Homo sapiens: one gene and its partners. The protein of the gene in region 2 purifies or fractionates together with the protein of the main gene of each other region. This does not show direct contact. Each region holds a gene or a part of one and is shown on either strand. Other genes may lie near its edges.

The links. Proteins that work in one complex are often made in the same cells at the same time.
Region 1: the proteins of SEMA3C (region 2) and SZRD1 purify together in Homo sapiens (co-immunoprecipitation; one large-scale study listed by IntAct). This does not show direct contact.
Region 3: the proteins of SEMA3C (region 2) and RBM28 purify together in Homo sapiens (affinity purification with mass spectrometry; one large-scale study listed by BioGRID and IntAct). This does not show direct contact.
Region 4: the proteins of SEMA3C (region 2) and TTC38 purify together in Homo sapiens (affinity purification with mass spectrometry; one large-scale study listed by BioGRID and IntAct). This does not show direct contact.

The regions. Positions count from the first base shown.
Region 1 is NC_000001.11:16,394,221-16,399,134, forward strand, and holds the end of SZRD1 (SUZ RNA-binding domain-containing), read left to right. Parts: intron 1-817; coding exon 818-920; 3' UTR 921-3,925; downstream 3,926-4,914. Other genes in the region: SPATA21 (spermatogenesis-associated protein 21), read right to left, coding at 4,545-4,602.
Region 2 is NC_000007.14:80,911,861-80,916,774, forward strand, and holds part of SEMA3C (semaphorin-3C isoform 2 precursor), read right to left. Parts: coding exon 4,819-4,914; intron 1-4,818. UniProt on the Homo sapiens protein: Binds to plexin family members and plays an important role in the regulation of developmental processes. Required for normal cardiovascular development during embryogenesis.
Region 3 is NC_000007.14:128,336,516-128,341,429, forward strand, and holds part of RBM28 (RNA-binding protein 28), read right to left. Parts: intron 3,277-4,914; coding exon 3,118-3,276; intron 2,807-3,117; coding exon 2,712-2,806; intron 2,287-2,711; coding exon 2,211-2,286; intron 1,828-2,210; coding exon 1,735-1,827; intron 688-1,734; coding exon 616-687; intron 1-615. UniProt on the Homo sapiens protein: Nucleolar component of the spliceosomal ribonucleoprotein complexes.
Region 4 is NC_000022.11:46,266,182-46,271,700, reverse strand, and holds the start of TTC38 (tetratricopeptide repeat protein 38), read right to left. Parts: upstream 3,694-5,519; 5' UTR 3,662-3,693; coding exon 3,629-3,661; intron 3,188-3,628; coding exon 3,110-3,187; intron 2,560-3,109; exon of another isoform or gene 2,412-2,559; intron 1-2,411.

The DNA of each region.
Region 1 (4,914 bases), on a different chromosome or scaffold from region 2:
TGTTCTTTTTGTTGTTTCTCCTCTAAGTCTTCACCTTTCCAGGGTGGAAAAATAGTCATATGAGTCAACCGTTAACCGCAGAGTTTGGAGAGGAGTGGGAGGGAAGAATTGGGGGGCGGGGGATGTGTCCCTCTGCTGAGCTCTTGATTCCAGTTCTTTACTTTGGCCTAACACTCTGGAGATTCCAAATGGTTCTGCGGAGCATGTGCTATCCATGGTCACTGCCTCTGGGCAGAGTGGGCCCTCAAGCACTCCCCCTGCCTACAAGTGCATGATGGCAGCTGAGCAGGGGGAAAGGATGCTGTAGCTGCTAGAGGTGAATGTGCACCACCGACCCTGCCTGCTCACAGGGGCCTCTCAACTTGGAGGTGCCCTGAGTCAGCTTCCCAAAGAAGCAGGCTTGCGGAGCCAGAGTGACGTGGGCCCAGCTATATGGACAGTTGATTTTAAGATGGGGGACATCTAGGCCAGGTGCAGTAATCCCAGTACTTTGAGAGGCCGAGGTGGACGGATCACTTGAGGTCAGGAGTTCAAGACCAGCCTGGCCGACATGGTGAAACCCCATCTCTACTAAAATTACAAAAATTAGCTGGGTGTGGTAGCATATGCCTGTAGTCCCAGCTACTCGGTAGGCTGAGGTAGGAGGATCACTTGAACTCAGGAGGTGGGGGTTGCAGTGAGCGGAGATCGTGCCACTGCACTCCAATCTAGGTGACAGAATGAGACTCCGTCTCAAAAATAAATAAAAAATAAAGAAATGATGGGGGACATCTATTATATCCTTCTTCAGGCCTTCCTCTGCTTTTCTTCCTTTCAGGCCAACCAGGATCTCCCAACCCGAAGACAGCAGGCAGCCCAATAATGTGATCAGACAGCCTTTGGGTCCTGATGGGTCTCAAGGCTTCAAACAGCGCAGATAAATGCAGGCAAGAAAAGATGCCGCCGTTGCTGCCGTCACCGCCTCCTGGGTCGTCCGCCACGGGTTGCACTGCCGTGGCAGACAGCTGGACTTGAGCAGAGGGAACGACCTGACTTACTTGCACTGTGATCCCCCTTGCTCCGCCCACTGTGACCTTGAACCCCATGCACTGTGACCTCCCCCCTTCTCCCCCTTCCCACTGTGATTGGCACATCGACAAGGGCTGTCCCAAGTCAATGGAAAGGGAAAGGGTGGGGGTTAGGGGAAGGTTGGGGGGACCCAGCAAGGACTCAGAGAGTCAGACAGTGCCACTTGGCCACTTGGGGTAAAGCCAGTGCCAGCAATAACAGTTTATCATGCTCATTAATTTGGGATTTCAAAACACAAATGAAAACTCACACCCACCCACCCCCAAGTGCATGTCTCCATCACTTAAAAAGTAAGTTCCATTTGAAAATATCCTTTCTTTTTTTTTTCTTCCTATTTTTGTTTGTTTATACAAATATCTGATTTGCAAGAAAAAGTGCATGGGAGGGGTTTTAGTGGTTTAATGAATTTTTAATTAAGAAAGGGTAGTTTGGTAGTCTACTTAAAAATGTTTCTGGGAAATTCACTAGAAACATTAACCAATAGGATTTTGGTGAGCTTAGCTTCTGTATTCCTACTGCCGCCCAGAAAAGGGGCAGGGCTCTGCAGCCGCCAGGACAGACGAGCACCCCATGCCTATACCTCCCTCCCCGAGCTAAGTCCCAGGGCATCTGGGCCTTGCCTGGAGACTGGGCTAGCTCTGTAGGCTCGGAGAGCCTGGGGAGGGTGCCAACCCCACCTCTAGTATTTTGGGAGATAGGGAAAGTGAACCGACTTCCCCTTCCCATACCCCTCAGGGTGGTTCCCTACCAGCCAGGCTTACTACTTCTAGAAGAAAGCAGAGTGCCAGGGAGTGAGATTGCATCCCTGGGCTTAGAAGTGACGGAGAGAAGACTTGTTTAGTATTTTGCCATCAGCACAAGGAAAACCAGGAGAGAGTCTGCCTCCAGGACTCTGAGCCTTCTGCCTCGTATGTTCAGAAGGTGGATAGGTCTTCCCACTCCAGCATGGCTTGAACTCTTAGGGGTCTGCAGTGCTCCATCTCCATTGGTGGCCCCAGCTCAGTAACTATACCTGGTACATTTCCTGTGTGCAATCAGTACCTTGAAGGCAGAACATTCTGAATAAAGTTGGAAAAAGAACAGCTTTGCTTTGCAAAGATTGATGACAGACTGGTTCCTCAGAGGCCTAGGCTACCCGTCACCCCTTTTTCCAGAGCGAGGGCCTGGAATGAAGGCAGTTTATCCTCTGTCCCTGGAGCCTGGGGTTTGCTTTGGCTCCTTGAGGTGGAAGAGACTAAGAGGGCAGCTGCCCAGAGCAGCTGTGTGTACCTGGCTCCTCTCAGGCTTCCTGATCCCTTCCGTTGCACTGCGCCTTATCCCTCAGCCAGCCAGACAGCCTCCCTGCTCCTGACCAGCAGATACGTTTCGGAGTGGTTGGTGTGGTTTTTGTGATGAGGGCAGCACGTGGTGGCCAAGGTGGCAAGCTGAGTCTCACAGGCTCACTCCCTCGTTGGTTCCCTGTGGGAATGGTAGGCCAGGCCCAGTAAGCCATGCCCCAACACGTCCTCTCCTCCGGAGGAAGGGCCAGCTGCCAGCTGAGTCAGCAGCTAGTCCATAGCACAGCCTTATAACTGTAAAGCCAGGCATTGCCCATGAGCAGAGCTGGAACCAGAGCTTCAGTCAGTAAGAGGGAGGATTACCTTCAGGAGAAGGCAAGGAAGAAAACTGGCTGCTATCTTTATAGTTCCACTGCCCTAACCAAGTGTCCACATTCTAAATGTGTAGTGTCCATCCCTTATGTAATAGTGGTTTCCCGCCCAAAGTGAGACTTTCCTTTTAATTGGAGAAGGGTATAGAGGTAGTCCAGGTGGGAACGCCAGAAGTGCTGATTGCCCAGCCATTGGGACCACCTGTTCTTGCCCCACTACCCTCTAGTGGGAGGCCAAAGTAAAGGCTGGCTGGTGGGTGTCTGTGGATTGAGGATGTGGCAGGGACTGGTCCTCCCACCTCCCTCTGGCCAAAGATGGGCTTTGCCCGCTGTGTGCCTGTCACCACCCACCAGCAGTCATGCCCTGGGCTTCCCAAATGGAGAGGTAGCAGGCAACGTTTTTAAAAAGAAAGAAAACAGGAAACTGTATTGTGTCGGGGGAGGCGGGAGGGAGATGAGGAAACGGTTTGGATTTTGTGTGTGGGAGGGTATTTTTTGGGGGTAGTTGTCTGTAACTTTCCTAAGTGCTTTTTTTCCTTTTCTTTTTTAAAGTAAGTTGCAGGCTTTGGCTTGGAAAACCCCAGGGGGATGGGGGGCAGAAACCTGAGGCTGCTGCCCCTTTATCTGCCTTCACGGTACTGTCCCCTTCCCCCAGCTCCTCCCTGACCCCATGGGCCAGGCCTCAGACCTTCCAGCTAACCGCTTCCCATGAGCCACTACTCTGATGTCAGCCTATAACCAAAGGAGCTGGGGGGTCCAGGCCTGGTGACCAACCTTTCTCAGCCCACTCAATCAGGGTGCTCCCCACCTGCAGGCAGGAGGCAACACCCTATCTGCTACCATCAGCCCCTTCCAGAGCCCATCTGCCCCGCCCAGCCCTGCCCTGCCCAGCCATACCCTGCTCTGCCCCATCTGGGGGTGCCCTGCTCAGGGATGGGCTGGCAGGGCTGTACCCAGCCTCCCTGGTAAGCAGAGACTCAAGAAACCTCTGGGGTCCTGTTTTCTGGTCGTGTGATCCCAGGGGTGCACATGGGCCCCTTGGGTGTCTGAACAGAAGGGCATGGGAGGGAGGGCTGCACCCCTGCAGTCTTACTCTGCTGGTGTAGCGGGCAGCTGCCCACTCCCACCCCACCCTGCACCGCGGGCTCCTGAGTCGGCAGATTAAGCATTTTATAAATTGTATTTTAAATACATGTTTTAAACTTGTCAGATCTTTGTCCTCATTTCAGTCCCTGCCCTCTACCTCTTGCTGTGGCCGCTTATTTAACCCTGGGGGATTTCCCTCTGCCCAGTCCCAGGGAAAGACTGTCTTTGGTAAAACACGAGGCCGGGTGGTATGTGGGTTGAGGGGAAAGGACCCACCCCTCTTGGGGCTCCCAGAGAATGAGAGCCCTGGGTCCTGGGGCTCTGTCGGGGGAGCATGCAGAGGCCACCTCCTGCTCTTCCACAGGGCCTGTCTTAGAGCCAGTGGAGAGAGAGAATGGCTGCTTTTGTGGGGCTCCCAGTCCAGAGGGGGATGTGCTCACCTGAGGAGAGGCCTAGCCCTGTGCTTTGAGAAGGCACAGAAGGTCAAGACTGCACGCAGGGGCACCTGTAGCAGAAATCCCAACCCCGCGCAGGGCTTTGAGGTGGAACCCTGCACTCTGAGAGCCCAGTGGTGGCTGGGTGACAACTTGAGGGCCTTTCTTGGCAAGAGGCACAGAGGCTGAAGTTATTGGTGTTTATTAGCTCACCAGGCCACAAAAGCAAATCCCAGCAGCAGCTCCTGCCTGGTGGCCCATCTGTCTACAGGCCTTGAGCAGCTGCCTAGAGTCAGGCCTCCAGAGGGTCAGTGGGTTCGAGCTGGCACAGAGCTGAGCCACTTTCTGCTGTCAGAGTTGTGTTCCCTGGGGAGAGGAGTAGGGCAGAAGGGTGGGAGACATGTGGCCCTTTCCCTATCTGCCAGTATATGAGCCATCTGTGCGTGCCCAAGTGAGGAGAGAGAGGAGGCCTCCCCTCAGAAATGGTGGAACCAGCAGTTGTGCTTAGGGGCCTGATTCCAAGTCCAGAGCTCCCTTCCCCAGCGGCCTGGAGGGGGACTGCTGCAGGAGACGTTCCCCTCTGCCCAGGTGCACAGTCTGCTAGTCCTAATATGGAACCATAGGGAACTCAGAGTACTCAGTTAGGTGCCACTGAGTCCTGGACACAGGAAAGCAGAA
Region 2 (4,914 bases):
CTGACCTCGTGATCCACCCGCCTTGGCCTCCCAAAGTGCTAGGATTACAGGCGTGAGCCCCCGTGCTCGACCACATTTTTTTTTAATGGAACCGCTGTGTTCGTATGACCGATTAACAAAACACTCAAGCTCACTCTTCTAACTTCAGAACACTAAAGCATTCCTTCTTTGCTCCCAATTGTAGGAACCTTGTAACTCTGAATGGCTTAACACAGAATATCATTTATTGGCAACAGAATCAAGCTTATTATAATCTGATGAAACTCACCTGGAACAGTAATTACTTTTTTAAACAGGAAAATATAGGCTTACACATTTTTCTAAAATTTTTTCTCTAGGAGAAATCCACAGCATATCAATGTAACACCTTTTATCCTAAAATTTTCAAGAGATGTTCTTTGCAATACCTGAAATAAAATTTCCTCCCTCCAATTCAAGTCTACTAGAAATATTATTTTATTTTGATTACCAGAGCCCTATATCAATACATATTACAGGGGAAAATAGACATACGAGGCTACATTTCTTAGCAATTCTTCTCATCTTCCATTGCAATTGTATTTTATAACAGTTTTTACCTTGCTGCTTTACAAATTTAGTGTTACTCTATTCTAGACTCATGTTTCAGGTAATGTCCAACTCACAAGTGAATTCATCAATCCTTTGCTGAGTTCAATTAAACTCTCACAAGGGGGAGAGTAGAAGGAACTTTTTATTCACAGAGCACCCCTTGAGTTTGGGTTTACTAAAACACTCATGTGTGCTTCAAGATATTTCAGTGACATTTAATTGAAACCATCATAAGGAGACTTAAAAGAAAATGCCATAACACACACCTGAGAACTAAATACTTCTCAGTAACACAAACCTGAGAAGATTCAATACACCCAGAGTAAGCATCTTCCAAGATTAACGGAGAAATCAAGAACAACTGCTTTTATTTTCATTTCTTGGGCAACCACAACAAAAACTATTTCAACAAACGTGCCTTGTAATGCTAATGCTACCAGAGCTCATAAAGAGGCAATTTATTATTTTCAGTTTATTGTCCAATAACAATTCATCAGCTTTGGGGCTTAGTTCATTAGTTCACAGGGATTCTTTTATTTGTTGAGGGTGATTTTAAAAGATGTTTTATAAAATTCCATAGTCTTTCATTTACATACTATCAAAGACCTGGAGACTTTGGCAGCTTTATTACTAAAAATTCAGCACACACAAAAGGGAAAATGAATCACAAAGTAAATAAATAAAACAGGGCCAGGCGCAGTGGCTCACGCCTGTAATGTCAACAATTTGGGAGGCTGAGACAGGCGGATCACCTGAAGTCAGGAGTTCGAGACCAGCCGGGCCAACGTGGTGAAACCCTGTCTCTACTAAAAGTACAAAAATTAGCTGGGCATGGTGTCGCACACCTGTAATCCCAGCTACTCGGGAGGCTGAGGCAGGACAATTGCTTGAACCCAGGAGGTGGAGGTTGCAGTGAGCCAAGATCTCACCATTGCACTCCAGCCTGGGAGGCAGAGCGAGACTCTGTCTCAAAAAAAAGGAAAAGAAAAAACAGGTAATCCTATGCAAGTCTAGTGCTTAGTCATAAAATACCTATTTCCAATTCAAAACTCACACTCAGTTTTCTGTTTTTAAACCACTGTCATGCATATGCAAATGTAAATTCAGCCATGGGCTGCAAGATTGGCCAATATTAACTAAGGAAAAACTTATACTAAAAGCATTTGTGTGAACCTTATATTCACTTGCAAAGCTATTTGGCATAAAATAAGAGTTAGACCAATTACAAAAGAAAATATTAGAAGTCACAGGTCTCAACATAGAAGATTTAAGTAGCACAAATGTAACTAATTAATAACATCTGAAGTACATTCTCCCACAGGACTGATGACCATCTGGTTGACCTTGCCCTAGATCAACAGGGAAGGCAAACCTGTAAATCACTGTTTTACAAATGTTATTACTCCATTATTTCACCACAAGAAAAAGGGATGGAACATGAATGGGAGAAGAGACTCATTGCTCTACACACCTTGAAATTGCCTATGATGCTTATTGCACCGGAAGTAACACAAGACTGAGTGGTTTCTTCTCAAGTTCCACCCAGAGAGAGACAGGCAGAGGACCAAGTTACAGTGATGGAGAAGAATTCAAGACAAAAGAGCCAGTAGGTAAAGTAATTACGAGAGAATCTAAAGGTACTTAGAGATATAAAACAAGTAATGCAAATGACCTCTGTCTAATACAACTTGAAACTATCTGAATTTCTGCAAAACACCTTTCAGTTGCTGATTTTTTATTGGAAAACAGTAATAGAACTTTAGAAATACGAACTAGAAGTATATGCCACATGTATTTAAATATATACTCTTAAATACATTAACCCCATACAAAGCTCTATATTTTGATGTTGAGAATAAACTACTTTGGAGGAAACTTAAAAACCTACTTGGTACAATAGTCAATGAGTCATCATTTGACTAATGAGAAACTTTAAATAATAATAAATTTGAACAGGCATTTCAAGCAGGTACACTGTGAAATCTCCTAAGAAAACTGTATTGAACCAAGGTTTAAAATTTGTACATTTTGACAACTGTTTTCGCCTGATACTTTCCCTATAACTTGTCTATGTAGTTCATTGTAGGAATGTTTAAAATTATTGAGTTACCAATCGTGCAATTTTATTAGATGTATTCTCACTGTTGATACATCTCTTTTAAACAGTATTCAAAACAAGTGATTTTCTATCTCTCTGATTATTTGCTCTGTTTTTCTCTCACTTCCTAAGAGTACCAGTAATACACCTGAGAAGAACAAAATATCAGGAATTATAGAACTTTGAGATCAACAACTCATGTCATATTCTACATAAGTTACAAATCAAGGCAAGTCTTATTCTGCAAGAATCTGTTTTAAGTTTGAGTGCATTTAAAATATTAGGCATATATTATTTTAAATCCCATCATTACTTCTAGTCACTGTATAGCATAGCTGTCACTGTCTTACACAGTTCTGAAGTCTGGTTCTAAAAGATTATACTATGTAATTTCCTTCTGTAAAATATGAATTGCAATTGCTTTTTCAAATACAGAATTGGTTCATTATCTCTAGTAACACACTTTTTGTTGATATTTACATTAGTTTGGATTAATTTTCATGTAATGGAAAAGAAAGCAGGTAGAGACATCTAATCTATTAGGTCACTCCATCTCTATATATACTAGGAGAAATATAGAAAATAGAGGGGAAATTGCACTACTTCTTAATGCCCTTTCTCTTTTATTTGAAAACGTATTTCATAGTTCTAACTTGGGAGGAAAAGTGTGGGTAGTCTGTAAGATGCTTTAGTAATTAAGGGGCTAAAAAGGATACCTCAAAGGGTCTGTTTTTCCATTCTTCACAACTTAACTGCATAGCTATGGGTTTTAAGGGGAAATGCCTTGCATGGAGGCTAAGGAAGCAATTAGAAGCTCACACATTCTAAGTTCCAAATATGGCTCCTTCGGTGCTTATGACAACCTTGGGGAAAGCACTGGTGACTTAAAAAGAAAAAAAGGACAGCCATTTGACTGGCAAGTGTCAGTCATTCTGCTATTTGAAATTTGAGGCCAGGCGTGGTGGCTCACCTCGGGAGGCGGAGGCGGGCAGATCACAAGGTCAGGAGATCGAGACCATCCTGGCCAACATGGTGAAACTCCGTCTCTACTAAAAATACAAAAATTAGCTCGGTGTGGTGGCACGCACCTGTAATCCCAGCTACTGGGTAGGCTGAGGAAGGAGAATGGCTTGAACCTGGGAGGTGGAGACTGCAGTGAGCCGAGATCGTGTCACTGCACTCCAACCTGGTGACAGCGTGAGACACTGTCTCAAAAAAAAAAAAAAAAAAAGGAATTTGAGACAAAGTTTCAGAGACACTCTGCTATAGAAAGGTCTGAGAATATATTGTTTATCAAATGAAAGAAAAAGTACTTGCAATGACACTAAAGTTTATGCAGAGTTGAAAGAAGTAATAAAATTATAAATGACCTTGATTGGCAGGATGGTGTTCCTCATCCATGTCTTGCTCCATCTGTCCAATTAGTATGGGTTACTTGACTAACCAAATTCATTCATCTGTAAGTCCTTTGAACTATATACATTAAAGCTCATGCAAACCATTCCCTCAGAAGACCTTGCACCTTTTATGTATGTGAAAATCTGAAATCACACCCATTTCCCTAAGCTTCTGAGAACATTTGTATACAACAACCATCAAAAGCATATTTCCAATTATTCTTTTAGGTCCTTTTCAATTAATTAGGGGACTATGCCAATCTCAGGAAATCCTTGTGGAAAAAGAAGAAACACCATTAGAACAACACACGGAGTAACCAGTTTTGAGACTAATGCCCAAAAAATTAATTGGGAGAATTTTTTAGTAATTGAACCTGCATAGCTCTCTCTGCTGCTGAGGATTAGCACAAAGGGGCAATTTCTTAACATTACCAGGTGAACAGTAAGATCAAAGATGCTAGGCTTTGAGCTCGTGCCCATCTCCTCTGTGAGTACACAGGCAAGCACAGAAGAATTATTTTACAAAAAGCAGCATATATTATAAGCATTTTCATAAATACCTCAAATCCAACAGAGGATCTTTGTCTATTAACCAATCATTTAAAATAGCTATTGTCCTCCAAAACGCAGCCCAGTAAATATTTTTAAAATTAATATCCAGTAATATTTATACTCTTAATTTCTGAATCTGGATAAGGAAGATAACAAAACTTAAAATAACATTTTTCCCAGAGTGTTTATCAACTCTCTTACCATCAAATGTTAAATAAACTCTTGCTTGGGGCTGGGAAGATCCTTTCACACAGATAGAACAAATAAATACTCCAACCAACACGCAAATTGTCCGGA
Region 3 (4,914 bases), about 47 Mb from region 2:
GAAACAACAGCAAGTAAAGGGGACAGTGAACTCAGGCTCACTCACAGCCACTCCCAGGAAGGGGCTTAGACTCAAAAGAGCCTAGGTTTTGGGACCAGAGCACCAAATGGTACAATATGAATTGACAAACAGACCTGGACTCACTTCTGAGCCAGCAGGAATTCAGAGTTTTCCCTGAAAGCCCAGTCTCATTCTTTTGGTTAATCTTCCACAATAGTCTTACTCTGATAAGCAGGTTCTCTTACACTTTTTTTTTGAGACGAAGTCTCGTTTTGTTGCCCAGGCTGGAGTGCAGTGGGGTGATCTCGGCTCACTGCAACCTCTGCCTCCCAGGTTCAAGAACCTGCCTCAGCCTCCCAAGCAGGTGGGATGACAGGCGCCCACCACCAAGCCCAGCTAATTTTTGTATTTTTAGTAGAGATGGGGTTTTGCATGTTGGCCAGGCTGGTCTCAAACTCCTGACTGCAAGCAATCCACCCAAAGTGCTGGAATTACAGGCAAGAGCCACTGCACCCAGCCTTTTTCTTACACTTTTATCATGAACACAGGAGTTGTTTCAATACTCTCACCCAGGTTATACAACGCCCCTACTCACCCAACACTACCACATCTTACCTATAGCAGAAACAGACTGTGTATCTTTATATTTATCCTTTGCCACGGCCCAATCCACAGCCACTGTCCGGCCTGTCAAGCAGAAAAGTGGCATCAGAAAGGCTCTCCTTTTAAAAACCCTACCTCTGTAAATGACCCCTAGTCATCACAGACAATAATGGAACCAGTGGAGACAAAGAAACTGCCAATTCAGGGAATGCTGGTCTTAAAATAAAGCTCCTAGTCACTGCCTACTCCTTTTAACCCTTAACCTTTTTATCAATGAACAGAAATTTTGCCTTTCTACATAGCCACCACACCTGGGATAAGATGGAGTAAAAAAATAAAGAATTAGAACTATGTTTCCAGTTAGACTATCAGGAATCAAAACAGGCATTCTGGAATCATCTGCACCCTACCTGGAAGCTAGGACATCTCTACGGCAATAACTTCTTTTTTTTTTTTTTGAGACACAGTCTCGCTCTGTCGCCCAGGCTGGAGTGCAGTGGTGCCATCTCAGTTCACTGCAACCTCCGCCTCCAGGTTCAAGCGATTCTCCTGCCTCAGCCTCTTGAGTAGCTGGGATTACAAGCATGCACCACCACACCTGGCTAATTTTTGTATTTTCAGTAGAGACGGGGTTTCGCCATGTTGACCAGGCTGGTCTTGAACTCCTGACCTCAGGTGATCCACCTGCCTCCTCGGCCTCCCAAAGTGCTAGGATTACAGGTGTGAGCCACCGCACCTGGCCGGCAATAACTTCTTTAGGCACAGTACTTGATAAGTCAATATATAAATCACAGTCAGTTTAATAAATAGCCCACAGATGCTGAACAGTGATATAACCAAGGAGGAATCTAGATACCAACCTGCATCTATCAGCAATTATCTCAGGGACATTTTTCACTAGGGATTTAAAAGGACACTCTCACCAGATAAAAGAAAGAATACTGGCAAGGGTTCTTTCAAGTTTAACCCCAAGATCAAGTTCTAGAGTATTTCACCTAAATAGCTACCGTATTAGCAATGAGACTCTTAATAATGCAAACATCTTTTGAAAATGCAGAAAGTGGGTTACTACACTAATTCACCAAAACACCAGAAATATCTGGGTCAATGATATGGGTATAGAAAGCTTACCTTTTATCTCTTTCATGTTCATGCCTTTGAGAGCTTTACCTGCTTCTAGGAGGTTTTTGAACTGAACAAAACCAAAACCGCGCATCTTCCCATCTGTGTGCAAATGCACAAAGAAAGAAGTGAGAGGCAGCAGGAGGTAGCCAGAATACTAAGAAGTAAATTACTGCAATTCAGGCCCACAAGATGGCCCAAATTCTGCCAGCAGGTCAGGCCCTTCCCCAAAGCAATTGCTTACATCTTCTTACTGAGTATACTCTGACTTGGACTTGGGGAGAGCAAAACACTTTCTCAAACTAACTCGCCTTCTAAAACTAATTCTGATCCAACAGAAAATATCATCAGGGGAATAAAACCATTATTTGGGTTTTCATTAGATGTGAAGCACTGTGCCAAATACTTCATATATATCATATATGTTTGTTCAAGGGTAATATGTTAACTAACGTAATCCACACCAAGTGAAGGTTTATTAGTACCTGGTTTCCTAGGGATATTTACTTCCAGGACAGCTCCAAATTGAGCAAATACTGTCTTCAAGTCATCTTCTGAACACTGAAGCCAAAAGTGAAGAAAGAAAAAGAGAAACACAATCACAGCAAATTAACATAAAACATCAACTACTAAATTCATTAATTATGAAAAACATGAATGTTTACTTTTTTTTATTTTTGATACTAGGACATCAAATGTTTCTAAATAGAAGACATTTTACTTTGTACCTAAGAGGCAAAAACACAGACGTCTGAGAACTTTTTCTACCTTTTCTTTCTCAGTAGTAGTTTCCCCAAAAAGGAAAGCAGCTTCACACTTAGTGCCCTTATTACACAGGCCCACTTTCTGAATTCAACAGGGGTAAGGTTGATTCCCAGAAGGAATTAAGCCCAATTATACCATCTTGGTGAGGAGTTCTACTAATGATCACATCTTGGCTCTAAAAGCCTTCAAAACATGCAATGTTCATTTTCTCTCTCACTTACCTTAAAGCTCAGGTTCCGAATAATTAATCTGGCTTTCTTATCTGCCACTTTGGCTTTTTTAGCCTTCGGCTCCTTCTTTGGGCACTCTGAGTTTTCTAAAAAATAAGAGGTAATGGAATAAGTACTCGAAAATCACCCACTTCTACGCCAGAACATCACAGAAAAAAAAGCTACTGGCGACAGATGGCATTTACCACAGGGTTAAGTGTGGCAATAATACCAAGGAATACCAGATTTTTCCAAAGAACTAAAATGAGTATCACAATACACTGGATGATTTTGGAGATCAAAAAGAAATGCAAAAAGCTTTAAGTTCTAGAAGCTACCTCCATGCCTCCCTCTTTCATTTTCATAGTGCTCCTCCTCACCCTGGGAGAAAAACTTCCTTCAATTACTAGAAACTCACCATTTTTCCCCTTTTCCTTTGTCTTGTTCCTCAGTTTTTTCTTGGCAACAGTCACGTTGATCTTGCAACCTTCAAAGGTGGTAATCTCCTTGAGGGCCCTCTGAACATCTTCCAGCATTGAAAAAGTGACATAGCCAAAGCCTCGACATGCCTTACTCCCTGGAATAATGGAGTGGGGAGGGAGTGGAGGGGCAGTGTGAAAAGGAGAGAGAATCATAAGCCAAGAGCACTAAATGAGTAAATCCTCAAAGCCTAAGCTAGAGGATATACTGCCAACCCATCTTGCTATCAGTTTGCCAAAAGTCTCAGGAGGGCGAGAAACAAGGGTGGTATCAGTGGTTCCCTCCCCACTTTGCTTAGAAACTGTTAGCCTTCCTCCTCTTTTAATTTAGTGTCTTTGCTGTTAGCTCCCCTTCTTCCCCCTTTCTTGATAATCCCAAGAAAACAGAGAATCCATGACATATGAGGCCCTCAAAGAACTCAACATCAAAAAGAACAAAACATCACCAAAGAAGGCAGGAAAGGTAAGTATATGCTATGGTTTGAATGTGTCCCCCAAATTTCATGTGTTGGAAACTTAATCCCCAATGTAGCAGTATTGAAAGGTGGAGTCTTTAAGAGGTGACTGGATCAGAGGACTCTGTCTTCAGGAATGGATTAATCAATTTATGGATTAATGGGTTAATAGATTAATGGGCTATCATGAGAGTGGAGCTGGGGGCTTTATAAGAAGAGGAAGAGAGACCTGAGCAAGCACATTAGCATGCTCAGCCCCCTCGCCATGACACCCTGCACTGTCTGGGCATTTTGCAGAGTCCCCACCAACAAGAAGGCTCTCACCAGATACAGCCACTAAACTTTGGACTTCTCAGCCTCCAGAACTTAAGAAATAAATTTTTCTTTACAAAGTACCTAGTTTCAGGTATTCTCTTATAAGCAACAGAAAATGAATTAAGACAGTATGGTAGCTTCAAAAATCAGAACACAATAATGCAGTTACTCCTCAAAATAGATCAGCAATAAATGCCTGAGGCCCAGACAAAAGAACCTCAAACAATAAATACTGCTCAGAGAGACTGCAGATGTTATGACCACTATTACCAACGCCTTAGCTGTCGATATCAAATTAAACCTTTCCAAAGCAGCTGTGCATTCTTGTCTCATTTTATCTTTAGAACACCTCAAAATAGGTAAAGCAAATATTATCACCCCTTCTTTCCAAGTAAGTAATTTGAGATGGAAGACAGTAAGTGAATTGGTTAATGTCACACAGGGTGTTAGTAGCTGAATTAACTCCTCCTCACCAGCCCCCATGTTCTTCCATAGGACTCCACAAAGAATAATATTAGGACCAAGGAGATGAAAACTACAAATATCAACTGTAACCCACCTTTGCCCTTTTTGGTTTAACATTTTGTATAGTAAAATTTTAAATAATTTATTGCATCAAAAAGGAAAAGGACAGATCAAGAAGTCTGCCTTTACCTGAAAAGGACACATAGTTCATATGCTCTGCTTCTCTTTCCACTGCATTTGAATCTCCTTCAGGGTATAAGCCCTTTGACACAGGACACTGATCTACATAAACTGGTTAAAGCAACATAACATCAATTTTTCTCTTCTCTTGAACTCCTTATCATAAAAGCTGCCCACTCACCTTTCAGAAAATGAGCACAAGAAAATTCATAGCCCTTCATGATCAGTACAACCAAAAGTAAAGCAGCTGAAATGTAAAAGAGTTTGACACCCAAATGAAAGGACATACAGTAAATACCACACATTTTACATGTCTGCATA
Region 4 (5,519 bases), on a different chromosome or scaffold from region 2:
TGTCTCTACAAATAATACAAAAATTAGTCAGGCGTGGTGGCACATGTCTGTAGTCCTAGCAACTTGGGCGGCTGAGACTTGGGTGGCTGAGACAGGAGAATCGCCTGAACCTGGGAGGTAGAGGTTGCAGTGAGCTGAGATCGTGCCACTGCACCCCAGCCTGGGTGACAGAGAAAAGGAAAAAAAAAGGCCAGGTGTGGTGGCTCATGCCTGTAAGCCCAGCACTTTGGGAGGCCGAGGTGGGCGGATCATGAGGTCAGGAGATCGAGACCATCCTGGCTAACACGGTGAAACCCCCGTCTCTACTAAAGATACAAAAAATCAGCCGGGTGTGGTGGTGGGCGCCTGTAATCCCAGCTACTCGGGAGGCTGAGGCAGGAGAATGGCGTGAACCCAGGCGCCACTGCACTCCAGCCTGGGCGACAGAGTGAGACTCTGTCTCAAAAAAGAAAAAAAAGAAAAAAGAAAAGAAAGAAAAGGCAGGTTCCTCCTGACAGGTGACCTGCTCCACATCGGCTTCTTCTGCCCTAAGAGGAGCCCTGAAGTTGGTCACGATAGGAATATTCCTGCTTCTTATTCATTCGTTTTAAAAATATTCACAGAAAACATTTATTTTAGAGAGTTAGAAAGACACAAAAGCTGAAAGATAAAACTTACCCAAAGCTCATTTTATCATTTTTTTTTTAATTGAGACAGAATCTTGCCCTGTCACCCAGGCTGGAGTGCAATGGCACGATCTTGGCTCACTGCAACCTCTGCCTCCAGGTTTCAAGCAATTCTCCTGCCTTGGTAGGAGAATCCCTCCTTAGTAGCTGGGATTACAGGTGTGCACCACTGCGCCCGGCTAATTTTTTTTTTTTCTTTTTTGAGATGGAGTCTTGCCCTGTCACCCAGGCTGGAAGGCAGTGGCACTATCTCAGCTCACTACAACCTCCACCTCCCTGGTTCAAGAATTCCTCTGCCTCAGCCTCCCGAGTAGCTGGGATTACAGGCCCATGCCACCATGCCCGGCTAATTTTTTTATATTTTTAGTAGAGACAGGGTTTCACCATGTTGGCCAGGCTGGTGTTGAACTCCTGACCTCAGATGATCCACCTGCCTCAGCCTCCCAAAGTGCTGGGATTACAGGCGTGAGTCACCGCGCCCAGCGCATCATCATTTTTAACAATTTGCTGTATTTGTACCTGGTCCTTTACTCAAATGCCTGTTTTAAAAAAAGTCCTAGACCTATAATCACACATTAGATTTTAAAATATGCCCTTTCAGCTGTCTAACCTACATCTACACAGAATTAGTACGTGTATTTTTTTTTTAAGACAGGGTTTGCTCTGTTGCCCAGGATGGAGTACAGTGGCACAATCACAGCTCACTTCAGTCTCAACCGCCCAGGCTCAAGCAATCCCCCTGCCTCAGCCTCCCAAATAGCTGAGACTATAAGCTACGCAAGCATTTTGACAAGATACAGGAGGGTTGGCACAGAGATTTAAAGAAGCCAAGTTCTAACACAGGACAGCACAGAGACACCAATACACGGGACAAAATATACCCAGGCTGGGAGGATGAGCTGCCACTGATTGGGGATGTGGTGTGTAACAAACTGAGTACTAGGGGCCGGGCACAGTGGCTCACGCCTGTAATCCCAGCACTTTGAGAGGCCAAGGCAGGGGAATCACAAGGTCAGGAGTTTGTGACCATCCTGACCAACATGGTGAAACCCCGTCTCTACTAAAGATACAAAAAATCAGCTGGGTATGATGGTGCGTGCCTATAATCCCAGCTACTTCGGAGGCTGAGGCAGGGCAATCGCTTGAACCCGAGAGGCAGAGTTTGCAGTGAGTCAAGACTGCGCCATTGCACTCCAGCCTGGGTGACAGGGCAAGACTCCGTCTCAAACAAAAAACAAATCGAGTACTCTACAGAGGCCGGCGAGATACAGGAAGGGCAAGTGAGCCAGGTCAAACACAAAATAAACAAACAACTCAGATGCCCACAGCAGAGTCCCTTGGCAGGGCAGGCTGGGAACAGGAGAGGCACCCATGGCGCAGCTCACAGCATTCCATCAGTCCTCTCTTGTTCAGCCCGTAGGCTTCTAAGAGCTACCTGAGTCCTCCTGTTATGTGGATGAAGTCAGTATGCAGGGGCCTCACCACCCACGCCAAGGTCAGCTTAGGTTTCTATCAGTGCAGTTAGGCCCAGGTTCATCCTGGTTCTGCCTGTAATTCATGGACAACCTTCAAGTCAAGTAGGTTCAACTCTGAGCCTCAGTTTCCCCACTTGTCAAGGAAGCTAGTTGGATCTTACTTCTGAGACTTCTCCTAGTTCTAAAACTATAGGACCCTTCATTGGTAGAGAAATGACTGGTAATGTGGCAGAAGGTCTTGGCACAGCCTAGGTGAAGGCAGTATACTCACAGATTCATCCCAGGACAGGATCCCACGTCCTAAGCAGCCGAGCCCTGCATCAGACCCTCAGCAGGCCACAATGGGAGGCCCGGGGAGGCCAGCATCCTCAAAAAACATCCCCACTGCACCCACCGCTGTCCACCCACCACTCAGAGTCCTGGGGAAGAAGGGAGAGTGCAGAGGCCCTTTTAGGACGCTGTGGGGGGGGGGCAGAGATATGTCCCCACCCTCCCACGTCCTCCAGTACAAAGTGCACAGATGTGCTGCCATCTATTGCTAAGGTCATGGCGCAATTTAAAAAGCTTTCCCCATGGCCGGGCGCGGTGGCTCACGCCTGTAATCCCAGCACTTTGGGAGGCCGAGGCGGGCGGATCACGAGGTCAGGAGATCGAGACCATCCTGGCTAACACGGTGAAACCCCGTCTCTACTAAAAAATACAAAAAAAATTAGTCGAGGGCAGTGGCGGGCGCCTGTAGTCCCAGCTACTCGGGAGGCTGAGGGACGAGAATGGCGTGAACCCGGGAGGCAAAGCTTGCAGTGAGCCGAAATAGCGCCACTGCACTCCAGCCTGGGCGACAGAGCGAGACTCCGCCTCAAAAACAAAACAAAACAAAACAAAACAAAACAAAAAAACAGCTTTCCCCAATTAAAAAACCTTCCCCTAGACCTCCACAGAAGGGGCCGCGGCCTCTCTCGGCAGGCATACCTGGGTCAGCGTGGCATCGAACAGCTTGCAGGCTTCGTTGCTTGTGGTGGAGAGCGGGAGCCTCGCATCCTTCCAGGCCTACAGACGGCAAGAAGGGAATAGCAGTGCCTTCTCTCCAGGAGCCCTTCAAACTTCAACACACACACGTCTCCTGGCCCCTCTGACCTCCACCTTCCTCATCTGTAAAATGGGCTCAGGCTCCCAGTCCTGGGCCGGTTCCAAGGAGCCCCTTACCTTTGCGGGCTTCCCTGCGTCCCCAGCCATGCCCAGTGAGCTACGTTTTTTAGGAGGTCTTGGGGTCTCCCGAGTACCCTGACAGGCGTCCCTTATTTCCCTCGGTGGGGACTCTACAAGAAGGGCCTCGGGTCCCTTCCAGGCGTTGCCGCGGACGCGCCCGTGCGCCCAGGGCTCACCCCACGCCCCGCGCCCGGGCCATGTCTCCCGTTATTCCGCCAGCACCGGGCCACCCCCAGGACCCGGGGCCCGAGGGGGACCTGGTTGGGGGCAGCCTCCGTGTACCTGGCAGTCGCGCAGAGGCGAGGCTGCGGCCATGTTGCGCCGGGTCGGAGTCCACCGCGAGCTCTGGGCACCCGGGCCTTCCTGGGAGTGGGCGGGGCGGTCGCGGAAAGGGGCGGGGCGGGGCGGCCGCGCTCTCCCGCTCGCTCACTGGTGGGTTTCGGACAGACTGGCCCTGGTCCAGGATCCGGGCCCGCCCCAGAGGCCCGACCGGACAACTCTGCAACGCGACGGGTCCCTTGGGAGCAGGGAGCTCCGGGACAGCGGTCACTTTCAAGTTTATGTCGTTGCGGTCGGCAGCTACCCGCGCGCGCACGGCACACACTCACTTGGCGTTCGGGGCCGGCTTCACTGGGTCGTCCCGCCGCCTCCATCCTCCCTTCTCAAGGATTTGCAGCGGAAAAATCGCTCTGTCTCCTGCAGTAGCGGCTTCTCCCTCTGGACTGGCCCGGTCTGGCCCGGCCTGAACTCTGCCATCAGCCACACACCAGCCCCAGTCCAATGGGCTCCCCTAGTTTAATTTGCCCCCGCCCCAGGGTGCACGAATCAAGGGCGTAGAACCAAGTGCACGGGCAGATCTGGCCTTTATTTAAAATGCTATTTTGTTCATCATGGACTTTTTGCATTAGTTTTGATTTTTGAAATATTGCACTGAAGTATTATTTGTTTTATGTGAGAGCTGTAAAGATAAAACTCTTAGAAGAAAACAGAAGTAAATCTTCATGGCCTTGGATTTAGCAATGGATTCTTAGATGTAACACCAAAAGGACAAGCAACAACAACAAAATAGATAAGTTGGACTTCGTCAAAATTAAAAACTTTTCTGAATCAAAGGACACTACTCAGGAAACTGAAAAGATTAACACAATGGGAAAAAACATTTGTAAATCATATATTGGGTAAGAGTCTAGAATCCAGAATACATAAAGAAATCTTGGCCGGGCACAGCAGCTCATGTCTGTAATCCCAGCCCTTTGGGAGGCTGAGTCAGGTGGATCACCTGAGGTCAGGAGTTCAAGACCAGCCTGGCCAACATGGTGAAACCTTATCTCTATTAAAAGTACAAAAATAGCCAGGCGTGGTGGTGCATGCCTGTAATCCCAACTACTTGGGTGGCTGAGGCAGGAGAATCGCTTGAACCCGGGAAGTGGAGGTTGGAGTAAGCCAAGATTGTGCCACTGCACTCCAACCTGGGCAACAGAGCCAGACTCTGTCTCAAAAAAAAAGAATTCTTACAACTCAACAGCGAAATGACAAACAGCCCAAATTTAAAGTGGGCAAAGAATTTGAGGTGACAGTTCTCCAAAGAAGACACACCTTTCCTACAGCGTTTTCAAGGTTCATTCATACTGAAGGAAGAGGCAGACACAAAAGGTAACACTTGTATTAGTGCATTTACATGCATGTCCAGAATACGCAAACATAGAGACAGAAAGAAGATTGGTGGTGACCAGGGACTGAGGGGATAGGGATGATAAGTCACTGAAGCCTTGAACTCCTGGCTCCAGCAATCCTCCCACCTCAGCCTCCCATAAATGGTTACTTTTATGTGAACTTTACCTCAATAAAAGAGAATTTGTCTTGATTATTGAGTTTTTGGTGCCCCTCCACCCTTAAATTTTGCACTTGAGCTGAGTACTAATATGGACTAATACAGTAAATTGGTACCATTAGAGTGGGGTGTTGCCAAAAATATACCTGAAAATGTGGAAGCAACTTTGGAACTGGGTAACAGGCAGAGGTTGGAACAGTTTGGAGGGCTCAGAAGACAGGAGTATGTGGGAAATTTTGGAACTTCCCAGATACTTGTTGAATGGCTTTGCCCAAAATGCTGATAGTGATATGGACAATAAGGTACAGGCTGAGGTGGTCTCAGATGGGGATGAGGAACTGG